Linked DNA regions of Homo sapiens: regions 2 and 3 are each linked to region 1. Evidence: fine-mapped expression QTL. A gene starts in region 1. Each other region holds a variant in brackets. All regions are shown on one strand. Distances are between the middles of the regions.

Region 1 (2,765 bases):
GCTAAAACAACGAGCTTAAAAGAACTTCAGAATACCACATATTCGTGAGCTGAGAACTGTTCGGCTAGAAAAAGAACTGACTCCATCATTTGAACCGTTTCTGGCTGATGATGAAATCAACTGAACTTCCAAACATTTTAATCAATAAGTCAACCCCTACCTTCCCCCATCTTCCTGTTGAGCCACTGTCTTATGCAAGCTTTAAGCAACTTGTGGACTGGTGGCTATATCCATGACCACTCTGTACTTCCTGCAGAATAACTATCATCACATGCTAACTAAATTACTTAACTGTCTGCCTGCCCCACCCGCAGCCACTGGAATGCAAGCTCCTGAGGGCAGTCAATGATTTGTCCACCATGGCATCCCTATGTTCAGCACATCCTAGCCCGTATTAAACCTGATGACTGAAGGAAAGAGTAAAATGGCTGGCTCACAGCAAATACTAAGAAAGGATTTGTGAATGAAATGCCTCTGGCATATTGAGAGAAGCGACTAATGTCAAATGAGCCATTTAAGTTGGTGAAGGACTAATCCTTGCCTGGCGCAGTTAATCTGTAGTGACCTTTCGCATATGGAATCGATATTTTGAGGCTGGGGTGTACAAGTAGGTTCTGAGAATTCTTTATAATGAAGAAGTGATTCCATTTGATAACCACACATGGTAGATGGCACTATTCGGCTCACGGGAGTCTCAGCCCAAGGCTGGCGCAGGGCCGAATGAGCCAGCAGAACTTAAACCAGAGGGAAATAAATCCTATGCTTTGAAAGCCCCTAGAAGAGTAAGCCCCCTCAAGCCCAGGAAAAGAGGCAGAGGACACCCGGCGCAGAGGGAGGCGATCCTAGACACAACCTTTTGTCTGCAGATTATCAAGACTGTGTCCTAGATTCCAAGGTGACAGTGCCACAGGTAGGGTAACAATTCCCTTCATATTTGCAGCGTGTTATAGGCAACAGCGTAGGGCAGGTAACACAATTTTGCATCCCTCCTTAACCAGCATAGCGGCTGAGAAACCTCCCCCAACACGCTCCTTCCACCACTCAAGGTGGCGGGGTGGAGGGCCCAGCAGAACCCAAGAGGCTCTGAGGCCGGCCGGCGACCTTGACGCTGCCGGCCGGGCCCAGGCCACCGCGCGGCGCCTCGCCCCTGCCCCACCCCGACGCTCGCCACACCTCGGTGTTTGCAGAGCCTCGGCCTCGGCCCCGGCCCCGGCGGTCTGGGAGCGGACGCCTAGCCCTGCGCCGGGCGGCCCTGAAGAGGGAAATGCGGCTGCGGGGCCGCGGGGACTTACCTGCAGCAGCACGGCCAGCAGGAAGCACAAGTACATCTGGTAGATGCCCATCTCCCCCACCGCCTGGAACGCCTCCTCCACCTCCATGGCGGGCCGCGCGCAGGAACCCCGCCACCCCACCGCCCTCTCAGGCGCTGCCCTCCCGCCCAGCGCGGCAACCCCTGGGCGCCCGGCACCGGCTTGGACCCGCCGGGGCGGGGATGGAAGCGCTGGCGGCGGGGCCGGGGCGGGCCGGGCCGGGGCGGGGCGCCTGCGCGGGCGGCGGGGCTGTCAGGCTCGAGAGGTGGACGCCGGGCGGGGAGCGGGGAGCGCAGCCGGGCTACGCGGGGCGAGGGGCGAGGAGGGCGTTCGAGATCCGGGGCTGGATGCCCTGGACCCGGGCCTCTGGACTTCCTGTTTAAAAAAAAAATGGTGTTTTGGTGTACGTTTTGTTTTGAGAGGGACCGCTGTCTGCGCCTTAAAGTGAGGAAAGAGGAAGTGGGCCGGGCTGAGGGCCTGAGAAGAAACATCGGGACCGCGTCCGCGTGTGACCCAGGGCTCTGCCTACAGGGGACCCGCAGCTGGCGGGCGGCCTGGCGGCTCTCAGCAATGCCTGTCGTTTTGCCCAAACCAGTTTAATGCGGGGGCTTGGGGAGCCCTAGAGCCTTCAGAGAAAAGTGCTGTCTGTGCAGCATTTCTTTCCAGTCCTATTCTGTGCTAGCCATGGGTTAAGTACACTGGTAGGCAAGCAAATTCTTGTAAAACCGTCGGATACATTTGCTTATAGAAGTATGCACGAGGTACAAAGGAAGTGCAAAAGACGAAGGGGCAGGATGTGATGGCTGCCAAGGTATTTAAAGGATAAACGGCAGTTTGTCAGGTGGAAATTAAAAAAAAAAAGCGTGGCAGGGCCAAGGGACGCTGGACACCTGCGTTAGTCCCCTCATGCCTCCACCTCCTAACCTCATTTGCCTTTTTGTTTATTATGTGTTGTCTTTTTAACAGCTGCATAGTATTCCATTGTCTAGACCATGACTTCTAGTTTAACATTGAATAGAAATGGCGACCAGCTAGTGTCCTTGACCTGCCAGTATCCTTCTTATGCTTCCAAAATTTTCCGTTAATTGTGATGTCTGTTGCAGCGTATTGGTAGCTAGGCTTTACTGGTCAGCTGCTTTCTTTTTTTAGCAATTAAATGAATGCTCACTGTAATTGAATTTATCAGTGGGTTGGAAACTGTAAACTCTATAAACTCTTAAGATTTTTTTCTCTCTCTTACTTAAGGAAACGTTTTCTGTATAAGTACTATTAATAGTTTAAAAAGTTTCCTTCTTTGGCTGTTTCCTACGAATCCTCATTATTAATAAATGCTGAAGTTTAATAAGTGCTTTTTGCATTTATTGACATGATCCTATTGTTTTTCTTCTTGAATCTGATAATCGGGTACATTATGGTAATAGTTTTTTTGATATTGAACTTTACTGGAATAAATCC
Region 2 (2,765 bases), 130 kb before region 1:
TTTAGCTCCTTATGGGCAAATGCTCTGAAATACAGGGCAGTCCCACAAATAGACTCTCTGACAGCTCCTGTCTGACAGTTTGATGAAGACAAGCTTTTTTTAGATGTAGATATCTGGGTAATTGGATATAGGATTCGCAAAAGGATTGAATTACAGTAAGCCTAAGGCACTTGTATGCTAGGCCACTGAGGAAATTCAAAGTTAGCTCAGGTTCTCTTCCTTCCTCAGAAAATAAATATTCTCCTTTCTCATGACTCACACCAAATGCAAGTACGGAAATGTAAACCTGCTTTGGCTCAGTTTCCATTGTGAAGACTAAGAACTTATTACAAGTCAGGTTAACAAGGCATGCAAAACCCTACGCTGCCAATCTGAGAAGTCCCGGGGAGATAATGCTAGCCCTGGTTTACCAGCAGAAGTGTTTGTTACTGATTTACTTAGTGTCTGAGATTTTAATTCCAAGAAGGAGGAAGGTTAGCTTGATCAAAATCAACCTTAAATATACAAATTTGTTAAAGTTTGCAGGATTACAAACTCTGACTTTTTTTTTTTTTTTGAGACGGAGTCTCGCTCTGTCGCCCAGGCTGGAGTGCAGTGGCGCAATCTCGGCTCACTGCAAGCTCCGCCTCCCAGGTTCATGCCATTCTCCTGCCTCAGCCTCGCCAGTAGCTAGGACTACAGGCGCCCGCCACCACGCCTTGCCAATTTTTTTGTATTTTCAGTAGAGACGGGATTTCACCATATTAGCCAGGAACAAACTCTGACTTTTTAAAAGATTTCCTGTAATCCCAAGATGACTCAGACTGAATCTGACAATGCAGAATACCAGGCAGAGATAATCGTCTGTGATGTGCTGAAGTCCACAGTAGTGAACAACCCGAGGCAGGGGCCAGTCTGTTCTGTATCTCCAGAGAAGCCTCAGTACCTAACGCACAACTGGCCCTCAATAAACATTACTGAATGCTTATTTGTTTGCATTAAACATTATGCAAAATGACATTATTTATTAGAATGTCACATTATAAAGTGACATTCTAGTAAATAAAATATATTTTAAGATGTGTAAAATCACCTTACAAATTATAAATTTAATTATATACATGCATCTGTGACTGCTTAAATTGCTATCTTCTTTTATAGAAAGGCCTGATATAAAAAAAAATTTAGCATAGTACTTGGCACATGATAAGACCTCAATAAATATTTGTGTTTATACTCCATTTCACTCCCTGAGGAAAAAGATCT[A/T]TTTTTTAAGGCTTGTTTGGTTTTTTGTTTTTAAATTTTTATTTCAATAGCTTTTTACGTACAAGTGGTTTCTGGTTATGTGGATGAATTGTATAGTACTAAAGTCTGAGATTTTGGTGCATTCATCACCCACATAGTGTACATTGTACCCAATATGTAGTTTTTTATTCCTTAGTCCCCTCCCACGTCCCCCTTCTGAGTCTCCAAAGTCCATTATACCACTTTGTATGCCTTTGCATACCCATAGCTTAGCTCCCAGCTATAAGTGAGAAGATAAGGTATTTGGTTTTTCCATTCCTGAGTAACTTCACTTAAAATAGTGGCCTCCAGCTCCATCTAAATTGCTGCAAAAGACATAATTTTATTATTTTTATGGCTGAGTAGTATTCCATGGTGTATATGTACCACATTTTCTTCATCCACTCATTGATCGATGGACAATTAGGTTGGTTCCATATGAAAGATCCTTCTTTTAATGTATGTGAGTAATTCTCCTGGTCTTACCTGGTGGGTAGGATTGTTCACTGGGTTGGTCTTCACAGTTCCATCAAAAAGCTGGTCTTCTTTCCTTTCACACCTGACATGGTAACTGAGATAGTTTGAATTTGATCTTTGGTCTGGGTTCAGAGGTAGGGAATCCCAAACACAAATGCCTACATAGGCCAGGTGGTTAATAAAATAAATCAGGATAGAGTAGAACAATGGAAAGCGATAGGGGTCTGCGGTGGATGCAAGAGTATATATCCTATCTGGGATATTCTAACTTGTTTGGGTTATTTGTTTATTTAATTTATCTTTTTTAAGCAACACTGTACTACACACAAGATTCACCCCTGCACTCTGCACTCCTGCAATACTAAAATAGTTACAGTTCCCTGCAAGACCCCCTCCCTCACCATCTTCTCTGGACCCTTGCACCGACAATGCTCACTGCTTGGACTCTCCCCTTACCTTCCACCCCTTCACTGGGCTTCTATTTGTTCTCCAAGATTTGTCTTAGCTGCTACCTGCTCCAGGGCCTTCTCTGATTCTCAAGACTGGGTGGGGGACTCTACACGATGCTTCTAGGCCACCCAGTGCTAAACTCCTACTTTAGCTCTTATCATACTGCATTTTGTTACTTTGCTTGTATCTAGCTCCTGTGGTACCAAAAGCTCCTTAAAGGAAAAGATTTACCTTGTTGGAAACAGTATTTGACATATAGTAGCTGCTTAATAAATGAATGAATGCATGCATGAATTAATGACTAAATGACGGTGGCCCCTTTTCTTATTCTACAATGTAATCCCATTCTATCTCCCATCTGCAGGCATAAGATAAAGTGAGAAAAGTAAAGTTAAATAATGAGTAAGCTCCCATTAGTTCATTTAGGAACACAACAAAAGTAGAAAAGGAATAAGGAAATTTTCCTTGGAAAGGCTGATTTCAACTCAGAAAGTGCAAAACAACAGGATAAGATGTTGTGTACTTGAAGGAAGCCACTATTCACAGCCGAAAGGTGTCAGGAATGTTGAAAAACT
Region 3 (2,765 bases), 170 kb after region 1:
ATTTTTTGATCTATTTCATCAAAAGACTTAGGTTGTTTATCACAGTATTTCAGATGGTTACAGTTATGAGACTGGGTGTACACAATTACCAACCATAATGATATTTATATATACATTTCACTTTTTGACCTATTTCTTTATGAATACAGTTGTCTGCTCATCACGATGTGACTGTCAGTATACCTGAGTAGTTATGATTGCAAAAATGTATTACTTTTATCTATTTTATTGTATAAAGTGGCCTGTGAGTGTTCTGTCATTTTTATATGTATCTCAAATAAAATATCTTTAAACTAATTTTAAAATTACTTTTCCCAGAATTGTAATTTTGTGATTTTGATTTTTGGGGATTTCAACATGTGGGATTATCACATTTGAGATTGTGTCTTTTGGGATTATGATTGGCTCTTGGTGCAAAGAAACAACAGACAGAAACAACAAGCTCTATACTGAGATCTACAAGCAATTTGGATTGTCAAAGGCAATCTTGAGAGGCAGAGGAGACAAGAGGCTGGAGTAGGGGCAAGAGAATGTTCCATTCAGAGTCATGGAGCTTGGATTTCATCCTACAGGCCATGGGGAGCCACTGAAGGGGAGACTTAGTTTCATTAAAGCTCACTCTGACTGTAGTGGGATGACAGTGGGCCAGGAGGCTGGGGAGGAGCCTGCTGCAATGGTACAAGTGAAGGATGACGTTGATCTGGACTAGGTAATGCTGGCAGAGGCTCAGAGGAAGGGCAGGTCTGAGTAATGTTTAAGGGTGAAATGGGTAGCACTTAGGAGTGATGCTCGGTGGGGACAAAGGGTTGAGGCCCCTTGAGGATGACTCATCCTTGAAGGAATCCCCCAGCAGGTTTCCCACTCTCAGCAGTAGCATAGGTAGTGTGGACACTATCAACCCTTATGCCCAGCACAGATGGTCTGACCAAATGCTCATGGTTACCAAAACACTGCTATTGTGGGGAGCTGAGTCTCTATGCAGAAAGGCTTCAGTCCTGAGGCCACTGGCCAGAAAAAGTCCCTCTGCCTCCAAACTACCCCTTCTTGCTGGGAAGGAAAGTGTTAGCTCAGGAGATCTGAGTTGCTCAAACCCTATACATTCCCAAGAAAGGCCTGATTTCCGCAATGGCCCTTGGCCAGTTTCCGGGAGATAAGCTCTGAGTCCCTGGATATTCTGCCTGATAAGGGACATTTTGTTTGCTTGAGGCCTTGGGTCACATGTTACCAGTTGGATCAGATTGTGCTAACAATGTGACTTGTGGCAAACAC[T/C]TGCTTTTGGTCTAGGAGTGCTGGAGTCTGAGTAGCTGAAACCAGTCACACAGGTACAGCATGCCTACATGACAGATCCCCAATAAAAACTCTAGACACCAAGGCTTGGGTGAGCTTCCTTAGTTGGCAACACTTTATATGTGTTATCACACACTGAGGCTGAGAGGATTAAATACATCCTGTGCAGCTCTATTGGGAGGGAACATCTGGAAGCTTGCACCTGGTTTCTCCTGGACTTTGCCCCATGTATCTTTTCCCTTTGCTAATTTTAATCTATATCCTTTTGCTGGAATAACCTGTAACCATCAGTACAACAGCTTTCTGAGTCCTGTGAATCTCTCTAATGAATTGTCAATGAAACCTTGAGCGCCTGGGGACCCCTGACACACACCCAACTCTGGAGTGACAGAAGAAGGGACTGTTGGGAAAGCATGCAGCCAGAACCTGGCATTTCACCACAGAGTAGGTTCTGTGCAAACAACATAAGTGGGGCACTTATGTATTGCACAGAACAGATGGGCAGGAATGAACACTTGCAGAAAACACTGGGAGGATGTTTCCCAGCTTATCCAGAGTCCAAGGCCACTCCGCTCTTCTCCAAGTGGCCTTGGTGGTCTTGCTTTTGTCCAACACAGCACTTCACCTTTTAATTTTCAGCTTTTCCAAAAAGTCTAATTGTCCTTCTTCAACTCTCCAGCTTATTTCTTTTGCCAGATAGTCATGTCCAAACTGGGTACAGAACTGTAGGCAATTTTCAGATACTGTAAAGTAGAATTTACACTGAACAACAGTTGCAAGAATCTACAGTATGTCCTAGAAATGCAATACATTGCTGTGCCGGCAACTTATAGGTTATTTGAATAACATGCTGTAAACAGCTGGTAAATTAAACTTCTCAGCAATGGGTATAATCCATAGCCAGAAAACCTGAGGTTTGATTTTATGCAAATACAAGCTTTTTGTGCACAATCTTACACCTTACTTTTATCACTTTGTCAGCTGGTTTATAAAACATAAGATACATTTAATAAGTGGTGCCCACCTCCTCTACACTTTTTCCAGACGAGGACTTAGATTAATAGGTATTTCTGCTCATTATGTAGTCCAAGCCCATTCTTGTTTTTAATGACAAGCCTAGGCACTATGAACATTTTACATTCCAGTAAACATGATGACATCCTTGTATATATTTGGAAAGCCTCTCTGAGTTCTCCCCACAACCAAGTGTAACAGCACATGTAACAGCATACTCCCTTCCCCTGGCCCTGCCACTTCCTGGCTTGGTTTTCCCTTCATTATCTCCCACTCTCCACTACTGTTGGGGCCCTCAGTTCTGCACCTAGGTTAGTGGCAAGCAAGACAGGAATTTCTTCATTGTTTATGACCTCGTAGAGGCAGTGTTCTATGCAGAATACAGAAAGTTGGTTATTATAAGCACACAGAAATGCAATACAGAAAATGAAGTAATACAAAGTGATTGAAAGGGTGGGAGGACG

Which allele goes with the higher level. Alleles are on the strand shown, and positions count from the first base shown. SD is a standard deviation of normalised expression in the study named. Not every link is listed here.
With allele T in place of A in region 2, the expression in neutrophils of the gene that starts at base 1,494 in region 1 is higher (large effect, 0.78 SD a copy in Naranbhai 2015).

Evidence for each region. PIP is the estimated chance that this variant, and not a neighbour inherited with it, causes the effect.
Region 2: its variant is fine-mapped to the expression of SLC22A15 in neutrophils (Naranbhai 2015, PIP 0.95).
Region 3: its variant is fine-mapped to the expression of SLC22A15 in lung (TOPMed, PIP 0.91).

The regions. Positions count from the first base shown.
Region 1 is chr1:115,975,242-115,978,006 of GRCh38, reverse strand. It overlaps SLC22A15 (solute carrier family 22 member 15), which reads right to left and starts at 1,494. Exons shown (of 12, transcript NM_018420.3): 1 at 1,293-1,494. The coding sequence starts at 1,379. It overlaps LOC101928977 (a long non-coding RNA gene), which reads left to right and starts at 731. Exons shown (of 5, transcript NR_125970.1): 1 at 731-910. RefSeq lists silencers at 1,108-1,357, 1,418-1,647.
Region 2 is chr1:116,107,844-116,110,608 of GRCh38, reverse strand. No RefSeq gene overlaps it. Among named protein-coding and RNA genes, the nearest start is that of MAB21L3, 2.2 kb to the left of the region's middle. The variant A/T (reference allele first, on the strand shown) is at 1,246.
Region 3 is chr1:115,809,789-115,812,553 of GRCh38, reverse strand. No RefSeq gene overlaps it. Among named protein-coding and RNA genes, the nearest start is that of NHLH2, 30 kb to the left of the region's middle. The variant T/C (reference allele first, on the strand shown) is at 1,270.